3 separate regions of the Homo sapiens genome follow, and all the other regions are linked to region 1. Evidence: fine-mapped expression QTL. A gene starts in region 1. Each other region holds a variant in brackets. All regions are shown on one strand. Distances are between the middles of the regions. Region 1 holds the start of NAPA-AS1 (NAPA antisense RNA 1). Region 2 overlaps NAPA (NSF attachment protein alpha). Region 3 has its middle 7.8 kb from the start of ZNF541.

Region 1 (4,213 bases):
TGATCCGCCTGCCTCAGCTTCCAAAGTTCTGGAATTACAGGCATGAGCCACCAGGCCCGGCCTGTTTTGGTTTGTTTTGTTAAAACTTCATAGGCAGTTCAAGTGTGCAGCTAGGATTGGAAACCTCTTAACAGGATGATTCCTTCCTAACCTGTAACTTCATTTTTTCATTCATCCGCTCAACATGTGGCTTATAGGTTACTAGGGCGGGAAGACGCCTGAAGGAAACGCACTGCTGAAGTGGCACTAGACCCACGTGCCACTCCCTCAGCGAATATTCACTAAGCACCTGCTGCATGCCAGGCCCTGGGAATACAGCAGCACTGACGGCATTCCCAGACTGCCCTCCAGGAACTTCTACTCTCCACATCCAGAAATCTGGAATCATCACAAATTCCTTGCCACCTCCGTTATCCAGTCTGCCTTTGAGAACTTTCCATCATGTAAGAGCTGTCTCTTACATGCTCAGCACATAGTTTGTGATTTTTGACACATATTTTCTGAATGCCTGCTTTGTGTCAGGCCTTGTGTTCCAGGTACAGGCGATAAGGCCGTGATCAAGGGAGATCAGCCTGCTGCCTTCATGGAGCTTGCAGTCTGTGTGTGCTCGAGGTGTCCAGGACAGCTGGCCAACCCATGTCTTCTGGAAATGATACACAGATGTGCACATAGTACCCAAACCTCCATGGCCTTCTAGGGACAAAGCAGCACAGACAGGAACCCCTGAAGGCCCCAGAGTCGGAAACACCTGGTTTACATCCTGTCCCCACCACTTGCTAGCATATCAGTCAGTGGACTTACTCTTTCTGAGCCTCCATTTGATTCTCTCTAAACTGGGATAATAAACCTCTTTGTAGAGGTTTCTTTCTTGCAAAGATTAGTGAGACAGATTTGCAAAGGACGTCCGGGCACATAGTAAAAGCTCAATGAATCCTGAATAAGTGAACCGGCAGGGAGGGTAACAGTAGGCCCTTGCAGAACAGTTGTAAGGAATCAGATTATCAGAGCCAGCATGACTGTCACCAAGTAGGTGTTCGATAAAGGAGGTGGTTATTATAGCTGGATCATTTTTCCTTGGGGGCAAGAAGAATGTATTAATTATTTTAAAGGTGATACTGTTAAGATTATGAACTATAGGCCGGGCAAGGGGGCTCACGCCTATAATCCTAGCACTTTGGGAGGCCGAGGTGGGCGGATCACCTGAGGTCAGGAGGTCCAGACCAGCCTGGGCAACATGGCGAAACCCCATCTCTACTAAAAATAGAAAAACTAGCCAGGTGTGGTGGCGCCTGTAATCCCAGCTGCTGGGAGGCTGAGGCAGGAGAATCGCTTGAACCCAGGAGGCAGAGGTTGCAGTGAGCCGAGATCGCACCACTGCACTCCAGGGTGACAGAGCAAGACTCCGTCTCAAAAAAAAAAAAAAAAAAAATAGTGAACTGTGGAGTTACCTTGTTTGGTTTCCAGTACTGACCGCTCGTTACTAGCTGTGTGATCTTAGGCAAGTTACTTTACCCCTCTGTGCCTCAATTCCTTCATCTCTAAAATGGATTTAAGTACCTACCTCCACCCCCTTGCGAATTTTTAATAAAGTATTAGATGGAATGCACTTACAGTAGTTCCTGGCACATAAGGGCAATATTAAGTTTTATGATGATGATGATTCGACCTTCCACACAGCATACAGCGAGAGGCCGTGGCCACCACCTCCCATCTCTAGTCACAGACTCCTTATGGCAGCCCCTTGGTCCAGAAATGGAAAGGAGAAGAGAGCGCGGGCGCAGTGGGGCAAAGTCGCCTGGGAGGCCCGAGCAGGCGACCTGGCCGCCATCTTGGGAGAGGGCAACGCCGGCAGCTTCCGTACGTCATCAGCCCGCGCAACGGCCGGGCACCCGGCGGTTCAGGTCGCTTAGAGAGTCGTAGGTTGGGTAGTGCGGGTTGGGGCGGGGGCTGCGGAGAGGGTGCTTAACTGAGGGGCATGATGGGGGAGGCGGCCGTGGCCGCGGGGCCTTGTCCGTTGCGCGAGGACAGCTTCACGCGCTTCTCGTCGCAGAGCAATGTGTACGGGCTGGCAGGCGGCGCCGGCGGGCGCGGGGAGCTGCTGGCCGCCACCCTTAAAGGCAAGGTGCTCGGCTTCCGCTACCAAGACCTCCGACAGAAAATCCGGCCAGTGGCCAAGGAGCTGCAGTTCAACTACATTCCCGGTGGGTGGCGCTATGGTGCTGGGGGGCGGGGGCCTGGAACGTGGTGTTGAGAAGGCTTCTGAGGCTCTGTCTGAGCCGGGTCACCGTGCTGGAAGAATGGGATCAGGTGGTTTTAAGGGGGTCACTGGGATCAGCGGGCAGGCATAGTTGGGGCCCGGATGAGCCTAGGGTTTCAGGATTCTTCAGACTTACAGGTCAGGATCCCTAGTACCCAGGGAACAGAGATCAGGTGATGGTGGTCAGGACTCAGACCAGAGGGCATGATCATTGCGGTAGCCAGAGCTCACCATGTTGGGGAGATTGGAAGCATGAGTCTGCCTGACACTGAACTTAGAACTCTCCCCTCCCAGTGGATGCGGAGATTGTCTCCATCGACACTTTCAACAAGTCACCCCCCAAGCGGGGTCTGGTTGTGGGGATCACGTTCATCAAGGTACCTAGAGCCCCCTCCACCTCCCTTCGCCCTCCTCCTTACACACATGGTGAGTTCCACTGAGCCGCCCCGGATCCCTCCTGCCACCCCTGCCCTCCCCTGAACCCCGTGTCCTCCGCCAGGATTCAGGGGACAAGGGCAGCCCCTTCCTGAACATTTACTGCGACTACGAGCCCGGCTCTGAGTACAACCTTGACTCTATTGCCCGTGAGTGAGGCGTGGACGGGAGGAGGGAGAGAGTCCCCAGCAGGTCCCCCATGCTAACCTGCCTGTGCCCTGCCTACAGAGAGCTGCCTGAACCTGGAGCTCCAGTTCACTCCGTTCCAGCTGTGCCATGCGGAGTGAGTGTCCCCTGCGCATCGACGCCCACTCCACTGTAAATGTAGAAACCCTGGCTTCTCGAACCCCTTCTTTACTTACAGACCCCTGTAGTCTGTTTCCCCTTCTGGAAAATAAAGAGGTTGTACTAGATTAGGGATTGAAAACTAAAATGCCAGCCGGGCACGGTGGCTCACACCTGTAATCCCAGCACTTTGAGAGGCTGAGGCAGACGGATCACCTGAGGTCAGGAGTTTGAGACCAGCCTGGCCAACATGGCGAAACCCCGTCTCTACTAAAAATACAAAAATTAGCTGGGCATGGTGGTGTGTGCCTGTAATCCCAGCCTACTCAGGAGGCTGAGGCAGGAGAATCACTTGAACCCGGGAGGCGGAGGTTGCAGTGAGCCAAGATTGCACCACAGCACTCCAACCTGGGTGACAAGAGCGAAACTCTGTCTCAAAAATAAATAAATAAAATAAAATGAAATTAAACTAAAATGCCTTTGGGGACCAGAGAGGTCATGTGAGAATGGAAAGCACAAATGTAATATAACAGGGAGCACATGTGCACACACACATATGCAGCTGAGGTTGGAAAGCTGTAGCTAACTGGAGACCACGAACTTGTCCATAGACAATCAGATTCTACATTTGTTTTTTAAAGCATTGCACTTTTTTTTTCTTTCTTTTTTTTTTTTTTTGAGATAGATGCTCGCTCTGTTGCCAGGCTGGAGTGCAGTGGCTCGATCTCTGCAACCTCTACCTCCCTGGTTCAAGTGATTCTACTGCCTCAGCCTCCTGAGTAGCTAGGATTACAGGCTCACACCACCATGCCCGGCTAATTTTTGTATTTTTAGTATAGATAGGTTTTTGCCATGTTGGCCAGGCTAGTCTCGAACTCCTGACCTCAGGTGATCCGCCCGCCTTGGCCTCCCAAAGTGCTGGGATTACAGGCGTGAGCCACCACGCCTGGCCGGAGCATCATGCTTTTAAGGTGGCCATGGACCGGATGGCCAAGGGGCCACCACACTGCCATTCCTGAACTAGATAATCTGAGAGAGTTGATGGAGCACCTGTGAATTCTGGGAATTCTGCACATCTAGAATTCCCAGATTCTAATGTTCTAGAGTCTGACATTCCAAGATCAGAGATGCTAAGTTTTCTAGAGTCGTAGGCTCTAAGATTCCAACATTTGAATATTCTACAGTACGATAGAAGCCAGAATCTTCTGAGGTTCTGTAATGATAAAGTCCTGACAT
Region 2 (4,213 bases), 21 kb before region 1:
CAGCTAGATTTTCCTTTCGTGTACTGTTGTTATCTCCTGGCACGTAATAAATGCTCGGATACCTGTTCCCCAGGTGAATAAATGTGTATGTGAATGGCTTCTTCAGGATCTTCCACTGGAACCTAGGCACGTCACTTTCCCCCTTTGGGGACTTCACTCCCATTTCTAAAAGAAGAGGATGGGACCCTGGAGATCTCCTGTCATCCCCTGGCCATGGTAATGGGCAAGACCGCGGGGTGCAGGGGAAGAAGGAGGCAAGCCTGGGGCCTGAGCAGGTGTTAATCCCTCTGGCCTTTCCACCCCACAGAATCATTGACCCCGTGCAGGGTTGGCTGTGCTTAGCCTGGGATCACAGAGTTTCAGCCCGGGCAGCTGGTAGGCTTTGTGTCCGTCCTGAAATAAACCCGGCTGGGCTGACTCTGCTCATTGTTGATTGCCCGCTGTGGGCCACTCAGTGACGTGGGTCATTTCTGCCCATCCAGGGTCTGTGCTTTTTCAGAGAGTGCATGGAGCTGGATAGGACTTAGTCACACTCAAAAAGAAGGGAAGGCTGAGCTGGGGGACCTGTGGGGTGGGCAGACCTGTGATTAAGGTCTGAAAATGTCCCTTTAAGAGAACATTCCAGAGAAGGTCCTTCTGAGGGTTTTTTGCAGCCAGGCCCCAAAGGACCCTTCAGGATTCTCAGCCAGAAGGTTTTGAAAGTTTCTTACCTCTCCAAGGCCAGGAATGGGTTCTAAAGAAGTCATTCCAGGCTGGGCACGGTGGCTCATGCCTGTAATCCCAGCACTTTGGGAGGCCGAGGCGAGTGGACCACTTGAGGTCAGGAGTTCGAGACCAGCCTGGCCAACGTGGTGAAACCCTGTCTCTACTAATAATACAAAAATTAGTAGGGTGTGATGGCACACATCTGTAATCCCAGCTACTCAGGAGGCTGAGGCAGGAGAATTGCTTGAACCCGGGAGTTGGAGGTTGCAGTAAGCTGAGATCGTGCCACTGTACTCCAGCCTGGGCGACAAGAGCGAAACTCCATCTCAAAAAAAAAAAAAAAAAAAAGAAGTCACTCCAAACAAGGCCCAAGGTGTGTTGGGCTGGCTGAGGTGAGGTGGGTGAGGGAAGACAGAGTGCAGCAGGGCGAGTGCGGGAAGAACACATTGCTCAGGGCCACTTCCCAGGGACAGCAGAGGGTGGGGGACAGCATCAGCACAGCCCCAGAAGGCAGAGGGTAGGCTTTTCATCTGGCAAGATGACAGAGAGGATAGGAATAAATAGATTATTTACCTGGTGTGATGTGGATTCAGGAGGCCAGGATCCCTGGCCCAACCAGCCCGCCCACCGTGGGGGCATTTATTTGCCTGCTGACATTGCCAGGCCTGGCCGCTGATCTGATCGCTGGTGGCTGCTTTCCAGGTAGTCGGTCTCAGTCAATTTTTCCTTCTCAAACTCACCTGATCAGCTGAATTACCTGGGCCCCCCAAACCCCAATTGTTAAAAATCTCATTTGCAGGCCCCATCCAGACCCTACTGAGCGAATCCCAAAGTGTGTGGCTGTGGGACTCTGGTTTGATGAAATGAGCACTTCATGTGGCTGAAAGGGATGGGCAGGTTGGACACACTGAATCCGCAGTGCAGAGGGAAGGAATGCTCACATCCCAGCTCCCAAAATTACCTTTGAGCCCCTCCACAGCTGGGGTTGGTGTGGACAAGTTCCCAGGTATAATGTTGGGCCAGTTGACACAGGGTGTGGGATGGGATGGTGAGGATGATTTGAATGGGAAAGTACCCACTCCTCCCTTTTCTCTTCCTTAAAAATAAACTAAACACTAGTTATGCCAGTGAAGAGAGGCCCTGAAATCCATTTGGTGGGACTCCAGAGTGTGTGGATTTTATTCTACTGATTATGT[A/G]GATATTGGGAGTTTGAGCAGTTACAGAGACTACAGACCTCGCGGGCTAAGCCTGGTTGTATTATTAAGGGCAGAAGAATGCAGTGGGACTTACGGGTTTGAGGTACTAATGAGGTCCCCCAAGTCAAGAGGAGGCTCATTATGTACATGTGGAGGTCAAGAAGCCAGAGTGAAGCTGCCCAAACAGGGTACCCTTTATGTTTTCAAATTCCTGTCTATCTCCCAGTGTATCCCTACTGTTGGACAATAAGTTTTTGGGGGGTTTTGCTGTTTTAAATAATGCTATGCTGAACATCCTTGTAACTTTTCTGATTAGTTTTTTTAGGATAAATTGCTAGAGATGTAATTCATTGCTGGACCACAGGGCCAAATATAAATCCTAATACTTAAAAATATGTGTGTGTGTGTGTCTGTGTATGTGTAAATGTATAGATATATACACACATATATACACATACACATATATACACATGTGTATATATGTACACGTGTGTGTATATATGTATATATTTTTTTTCTCGAAAAGATGTACAAACAGTTAAAAAAAAATTCAGACAGTACAAATACGGGATGTCCAGTGAATAAGTCTGCCTCCCACACCTGGCCCTCCTTCTGCAGGCTTCACCTTAAGAGAAAAATGCTGTTACTAGGTTTTTGTGTATTTGCCCAGAAATATCCTATGTTTATATAAACATGTATGTTTCTATTATTTTCACTCTCTTTCTCTTTTTTTTTTTTTTTTTTTTTTTGAGACAAGGTCTGGCTCTGTCGTCGTCCAGGCTGGAGTTCAATGGTGTGATCTTGGCTTACTGCAACCTCTGCCTCCCAGGCTCAAGTGATCCTCCCACATCAGCCTCTCTAGTAGCTAGGACTACAGGCGTGCACCATCACACCCTGCTAATTTTTTGTATTTTTTGTAGAGTTGGGGTTTTGCCGTGTGGCCCAGGCTGGTCTCGAACTCTTGAGCTCAAGCAATCCGCCAACCTTGGCCTCCCAAAGTGTTGGGATTACAGGAGCCATGAACCACCACACCCAGCCCACCCTCTTTTTTTTTTAAACACAAATGGGAACATCTTATATCTACACTTTAAAATAGTGCTTCCCATTTCTTTGTATGGCTGTGTGATATATATGCCCAGTCCTGAGCTGGTAATGACACACTCCAGGGCTGCAAGGTCTTTATTGAGCAACCACAGAGTGCAAGGCACAGGATTAAGGCTGCCTCTGCGAAAGCAACACGATGTCTTAAACTGGGCTAGTCCCCCAGAATGCTTTGCAGTCTCCCGGGGAAAGGGGATTTGTAGCGCGCCTGGGACCCAGTGGGCCCCTAGTATCCCAGGCAGGAAGTAGAAGAGGCTGTCAGACCCTGGGGTTGTGGTGGGGTCAGGAACTCTTCGCCCCACTACCCCAGCAAGCACCCAGTATCTACCCCAGTACTCCCGGAGGGAGCTGGTCTGCCCGAAGTGAGTGTGCCATTGTATGCAGGGGCGGGGGCCACAGACTCAAGAGGCCTGGGGGAAGCTGGCTTCACAGGTGAAGGGTGAGGGGTAGGGGCACGTCTGTGCCCGGCACTGGAGCAGAATGCTTGCTTTCTCCTGGATAGCCGACTAGATTGTCTCCTTTTTTTCTTTCCTTTTTCCCCAGAGGCTCATCCAAAATAGAGGAAGCATGCGAAATCTACGCCAGAGCAGCAAACATGTTCAAAATGGCCAAAAACTGGAGTGGTATGTCATCTCCGCTAGAGCTCCTCCAAGGTGCTCTCCTCCTCCCTCAGCTTCCACTCACACAGGCCTGCCCGAGAGGTTGGCCTTGAGGGCCCTTTCTCTTTGTATGCCCTCTCCGGCATCGGAAAGCCACTGGCCTGCTCTCTTGTTTTGTGCCTGCTGGGTTACTTTATACTCTGGGTCATGGGGCCTTGGTGAAAGGACAGAGAGGATGGGAATAAATAGATTATTAGACCTAGATAAACCCATGTGGATTGATGAGCTCTTAGAGTCCTCCTTAAATTCAGAACTTCAGGTTTCCTGGTAACTTCCTTAGTGCTTCCATCAGTGTCTAAATTCTAGGCTGGGGGAGGATGTTCAGGTGATTCCAATAACAACGTGAATCATGGCTGCTGTTTGTTGAGTCCTAAGTGCTCATCATTTAATTGCGTTAGCACAGCAGCCCTAAGGGTCAGTCTATAAATATCCCTATTTTACAGATTTGGAAACTGAGGCTTGGCTTAGTCTCTTGCCCAGGATGCCAGAACTAGTAAGTGACAGAACCAAGATTCAGAAACCAAGGCTCTGACTGCAGAGCCTGAGTGTTTA
Region 3 (4,213 bases), 97 kb before region 1:
CCTCCCCAAGTGCTGGGATTACAGGTGTGAGCCACTGCAGCCAGCCAAAGAGAGGAATTTTTACATCACTTTTAAATAAGCCCATTTTCAAATATATATAAAAATAAAAGAGTATGATTAACTCCACATGCCGGTCACTGGGCCTCACCAATTATCAACTCATGGCCAATGCTGTTTCATTTCTACCGTCTCTCATTGGCCCCACCCTCACCCCACTAGATAGTTTTAAAACACATCCCAGACATCACATCATTTCATGTACAGATTATTCATTTCATATCTCTGGAGATAAGGTTTGTTTATAGAAATATAACCACAATCCCGTGATCCATCTAAAAAATGCACCATAATTCTTTCCTATCATCGAATAGGCAGTCAGAGTTCAGATTTCTCTACTTGTCTGATAATTTAAAAACAAAACGAAACAAAACATTGGTCTGTTCGACTCAGCATCCAAAGTCCTTGGGTTGCATGTGGTTGATTTGTGGCTACAGTCTCTCTTATCTCTCGGTTCCCTCAAGGGAGGAATTCTTTTTAAAAAATGAATGGAAGAGGCAGGAGCATTTGAGGATAGTGATGGGCATGATTTGGCAGAAGGAGAGAGAGATGATGAATGATATAGGAGACAGGAAGAGAAAGAGGAGAAGAGGAGGAAATGAAGAGGAGGGAGGAGAAAGAGGGGGGAGGGCAGGAGGAAGAGGAGGAGGAGAGGAAGAGGAGGGAAGGAGGAGGGGAGGAGGAGGGGGAAGGAAGAGGAGGAGGAGGGGGAAAGGAAGAGGAGGAGGACAAGGGGAGGATGAAGAGGAGGGGAGGAGGAGGACAGGCAGAGGAAGAGGAGGAGGAGGGGAGGAGGAAAAGGAGGAGGAAGAGGAGGAGGGGGGAGGAGGAGGAGAGGAGGAGAAACTTCAATGGAAGAGGAAAGAGGGAGAGAAGGAGGGAGGTGGAAGGGAAGAAGGAAGGAAGGAAGGCAGGGAGGGAGGGAGAGAAGGAAGGAAGGAAGGGCGGGAGGCAGGGAAGGAAGGAAGGAAGGAAGGAAAGAAGGAAGGAAGGAAGGAGGGAGGGAGACCCCAATCCTTGAGAGAGGGAATCACAGGGACAGATGACAAGGGGGTTCCCTTCTGATGGCTTCTATGTGCACAGGGAAGTGTGGGACCTAGTCATGGGCTGGAGGGCAGGGGGGAAATGTAAGCACACCAGAGACACATAGAGAGTGCCCTGCGCCTGTCTGAGGCCTGTGATTTCTCTGATTCAGGTAAAACCCGTTGGGCTGGCTGGGTGGTTTCCTTCTGCTGGGCTCGGCTGGCACAGAGAAGAGGATGGCTGGAGTTTGGCCAGGTGAGTCCTTTAGAGGCCGAGAGGAGTGAGGAGTGTGAGAATGCTTGAAGGACGTGATTCAAAAGACAAATCACAGAAAGCAATGCTGAACAAAGTGAATAGATGGAGACAACAGGAAAAGGTTGGCAGAGAAGAGGAACCTGCGGCCAGGGTGTACCCCTCTCCTTCTGAAGAGCATCTTTTCCCTTAGCTTCTCAGGGGCTTCCATTTTATTTTGTTTTGTTTTGTTTATGAGAGATAAGGTCACATTTTGTAGACCAGGCTGGAGTCCAGTGGTACAATCATAGTTCACTGCAACCTCGGACTCCTGGGCTCATGC[G/A]ATCCTCCCACCTCAGCCTCCTGAGTAGCTGGGACTATAGGCACATGCCACCACATCTGGCTAGTTTTTTCTTTTTTTAAGAGATAGGGTCTTGCTATGTTGCCCAGGATGGAGTGCAGTGGCTATGCACAGGCATGATCCCACCAGTGATTAACACAGGAGTTTTGACCTGCTCCATTTCCAACATGGGCCAGTTCACCCCTCCTTAGGCAACCTGGTGATCCCCCGCTCTCAGGAGGCCACCAAACTGATGCCAAACTTAGCGTGGACCCTGCATTGGCATAGTGTACTACAGCCCAGAACTCCTGGTCCCAAGTGATCCTCCTGCCTCAGCCTCCCGAGTATCTGGGACCACAGGTGTGTGCCACCATGCCTGGCTCCCTTACTTTAAAAAAAATAATAATTCTATCTATGTCCCTAAACTGCTTATTGTTTAGCTTTGCCTGTGTTTTGAAATGATATTTATTTTTGAGACAGAGTCTCACTGTGTTGCCCAGGCTGGAGTGCAGCGGTGGGATCATGGCTCACTGCAACCTCGACCTCCAGGGCTCAAGTGTTCCTCTCACCTCTGCCTCCTGAGAAGCTGGAACTACAGGCAGATCACGCCACCATGCCCAGTTTATTTTTAATTTTTCTTGCCATGTGGTCCAGGCTGGTCTTGAACTCCTGGCCTCAAGTGATGCCTCCTGGCTCGGCCTCCCAAAGTGCTGGGATTACAGACACGATTCACCACACCCTGTTGAAATGTTATATGTAAATGGGAGCACATCTGTGTTGCTGTGTGTAATGGAAATTGACTCATTTTCACTGCTGCATAATACTCCATTGAATAACTATACCACGATTTATCCAGTCTCCTATAGGTGGACATTTTCATTTCCTTTCCTTCTTTTTTCACCCTAAACTTTTTATTTTGGAGTAATTTTAAATTTACTGGAAACTTGGAAAGATGGTACAAAGAGTTACCACATCCCCCTCACCCTTTCCCTGATGTTGGCATCTTACTTTATCACAGGACAGTCATGTGCCACATAACAACGTTTTGGCCAATAAGAACTACACATATGACAGAGGTCCTGTAAGATTATAATACTGTATTTTTACTGTACCTTTTCTTTTTTCTTTTCTTTTCTTTTCTTTTTTGTTTGAGATGGACTCTCGCTCTATCGCCTAGGCTGGAGTACAGTGGCGAGGTCTCGGCTCACTGCAGCCTCCGCCTCCCAGGTTCAAGTGATTCTCCTGCCTCAGCCTCCCAAGTAGCTGGGATTACAGGTGCCTGCCACCACACCTGGCTAATTTTTGTATTTTAAGTAGAGATGGGGTTTTACCATGTTGTCCAGGCTGGTGTCGAACTCCTGACCTCAGGTGATCCACCTGCCTCGGCCTCCAAAGTGCTGGGATTACAGGCATGAGCCACCACGCCTGGTCTACTGTACCTTTCTATGTTTTGATGCACAAATACTTACCTTTGTGTTTCAGCTGCCTACAGTATTCAGTACAGTTGCATGCTGCATGTTTGTAGCCTAGGAACAATAGGCTACACCATACAGCCTAGCTGTGTGCTAGGCTATACCATCTGGGTTTGTACAGCTTACGACGTTCACGCAACAAGGAAAAAATCACCTGAAGATACATCTCTCAGACAGATCTCCGTTGTTAAGTGACACAACTATACATTTGTCAAAACTACAAAAACATTGGCCAGGCTCGGTGGCTCATGCCTAAAATCCTCATACTTTGGAAGGCCGAGGCAGGCGGCTCACCTGAGGCCAGGAGTTTGAGACCAGCCTGGCTAACACAGTGAAACCCCGTCACTACCAAAAAATAAAAAATGTATAAGCCAGGCATGGTGGTGCACTTCTGTAGTCCCAGCTACTCAGGAGGGTGAGGCAGGAGAATGGCTTGAACCTGGGAGGCGGAGATTGCAGTGAGCCCAGATGGCACCACTGCACTGCAGCCTGGGCGACAGAATGAGACCCTGTCTCAAAAAAAAAAAAAAAAAAAACACACACACACAAAACAGGCGGGGTGCAATGGTTCATGCCTGTAATTTCAGCACTTTGGGAGGCTGAGGCGGGCGGATCACCTGAGGTCAGGATGAGTTCTAGACCACCCTGGCCAACATGGTGAAACTCCGTCTCTACTAAAAGTATAAAAATTAGTTGGGTGTGGTGACGGGCGCCTGTAATCCCAGCTACTCTGGAGGCTGAGGCAGAACCTGGGAGGCGGTGGTTGCAGTGAGTCAAGATCATGCTATTGCACTGCAGCCTGGGAGACAGAGCCAGACTCCATCTCAAAAAAAAAAAAGGCTGGGCGTGGTGGCTCACGCCTGTAATCCCAGCATTTGGGAGGCCGAGGCCGGCAGATCACGAGGTCAGGAGATCGAGACCATCTTGACTAACACGGTGAAACCCCATCTACTAAAAATACAAAAATTAGCTGGGCGTGGTGTCGGGCGCCTGTAGTCCCAGCTACTCGGGAGGCTGAGGCAGGAGAATGGCGTGAACCCGGGAGGCGGAGCTTACAGCAAGCTGAGATTGCGCCACTGCACTCCAGCCT

What was found.
Region 2: its variant is fine-mapped to the expression of NAPA-AS1 in cerebellum (GTEx, PIP above 0.99).
Region 3: its variant is fine-mapped to the expression of NAPA-AS1 in cerebellar hemisphere (GTEx, PIP 0.94).

The regions. Positions count from the first base shown.
Region 1 is chr19:47,481,923-47,486,135 of GRCh38, reverse strand. NAPA-AS1 (NAPA antisense RNA 1) reads right to left here and starts at 1,854. Exons shown (of 4, transcript NR_038452.1): 1 at 1,612-1,854. KPTN (kaptin, actin binding protein) reads left to right here and starts at 1,917. Exons shown (of 12, transcript NM_007059.4): 1 at 1,917-2,201; 2 at 2,552-2,634; 3 at 2,757-2,841; 4 at 2,921-2,975. The coding sequence starts at 1,976. It also overlaps a transcript of NAPA not described here. RefSeq lists enhancers at 1,543-1,672, 1,703-1,992.
Region 2 is chr19:47,502,835-47,507,047 of GRCh38, reverse strand. NAPA (NSF attachment protein alpha) reads left to right here. Exons shown (of 11, transcript NM_003827.4): 2 at 3,546-3,625. Among named protein-coding and RNA genes, the nearest start is that of NAPA, 10 kb to the left of the region's middle. The variant A/G (reference allele first, on the strand shown) is at 1,902.
Region 3 is chr19:47,578,842-47,583,054 of GRCh38, reverse strand. It overlaps the pseudogene RN7SL322P. Among named protein-coding and RNA genes, the nearest start is that of ZNF541, 7.8 kb to the right of the region's middle. The variant G/A (reference allele first, on the strand shown) is at 1,655.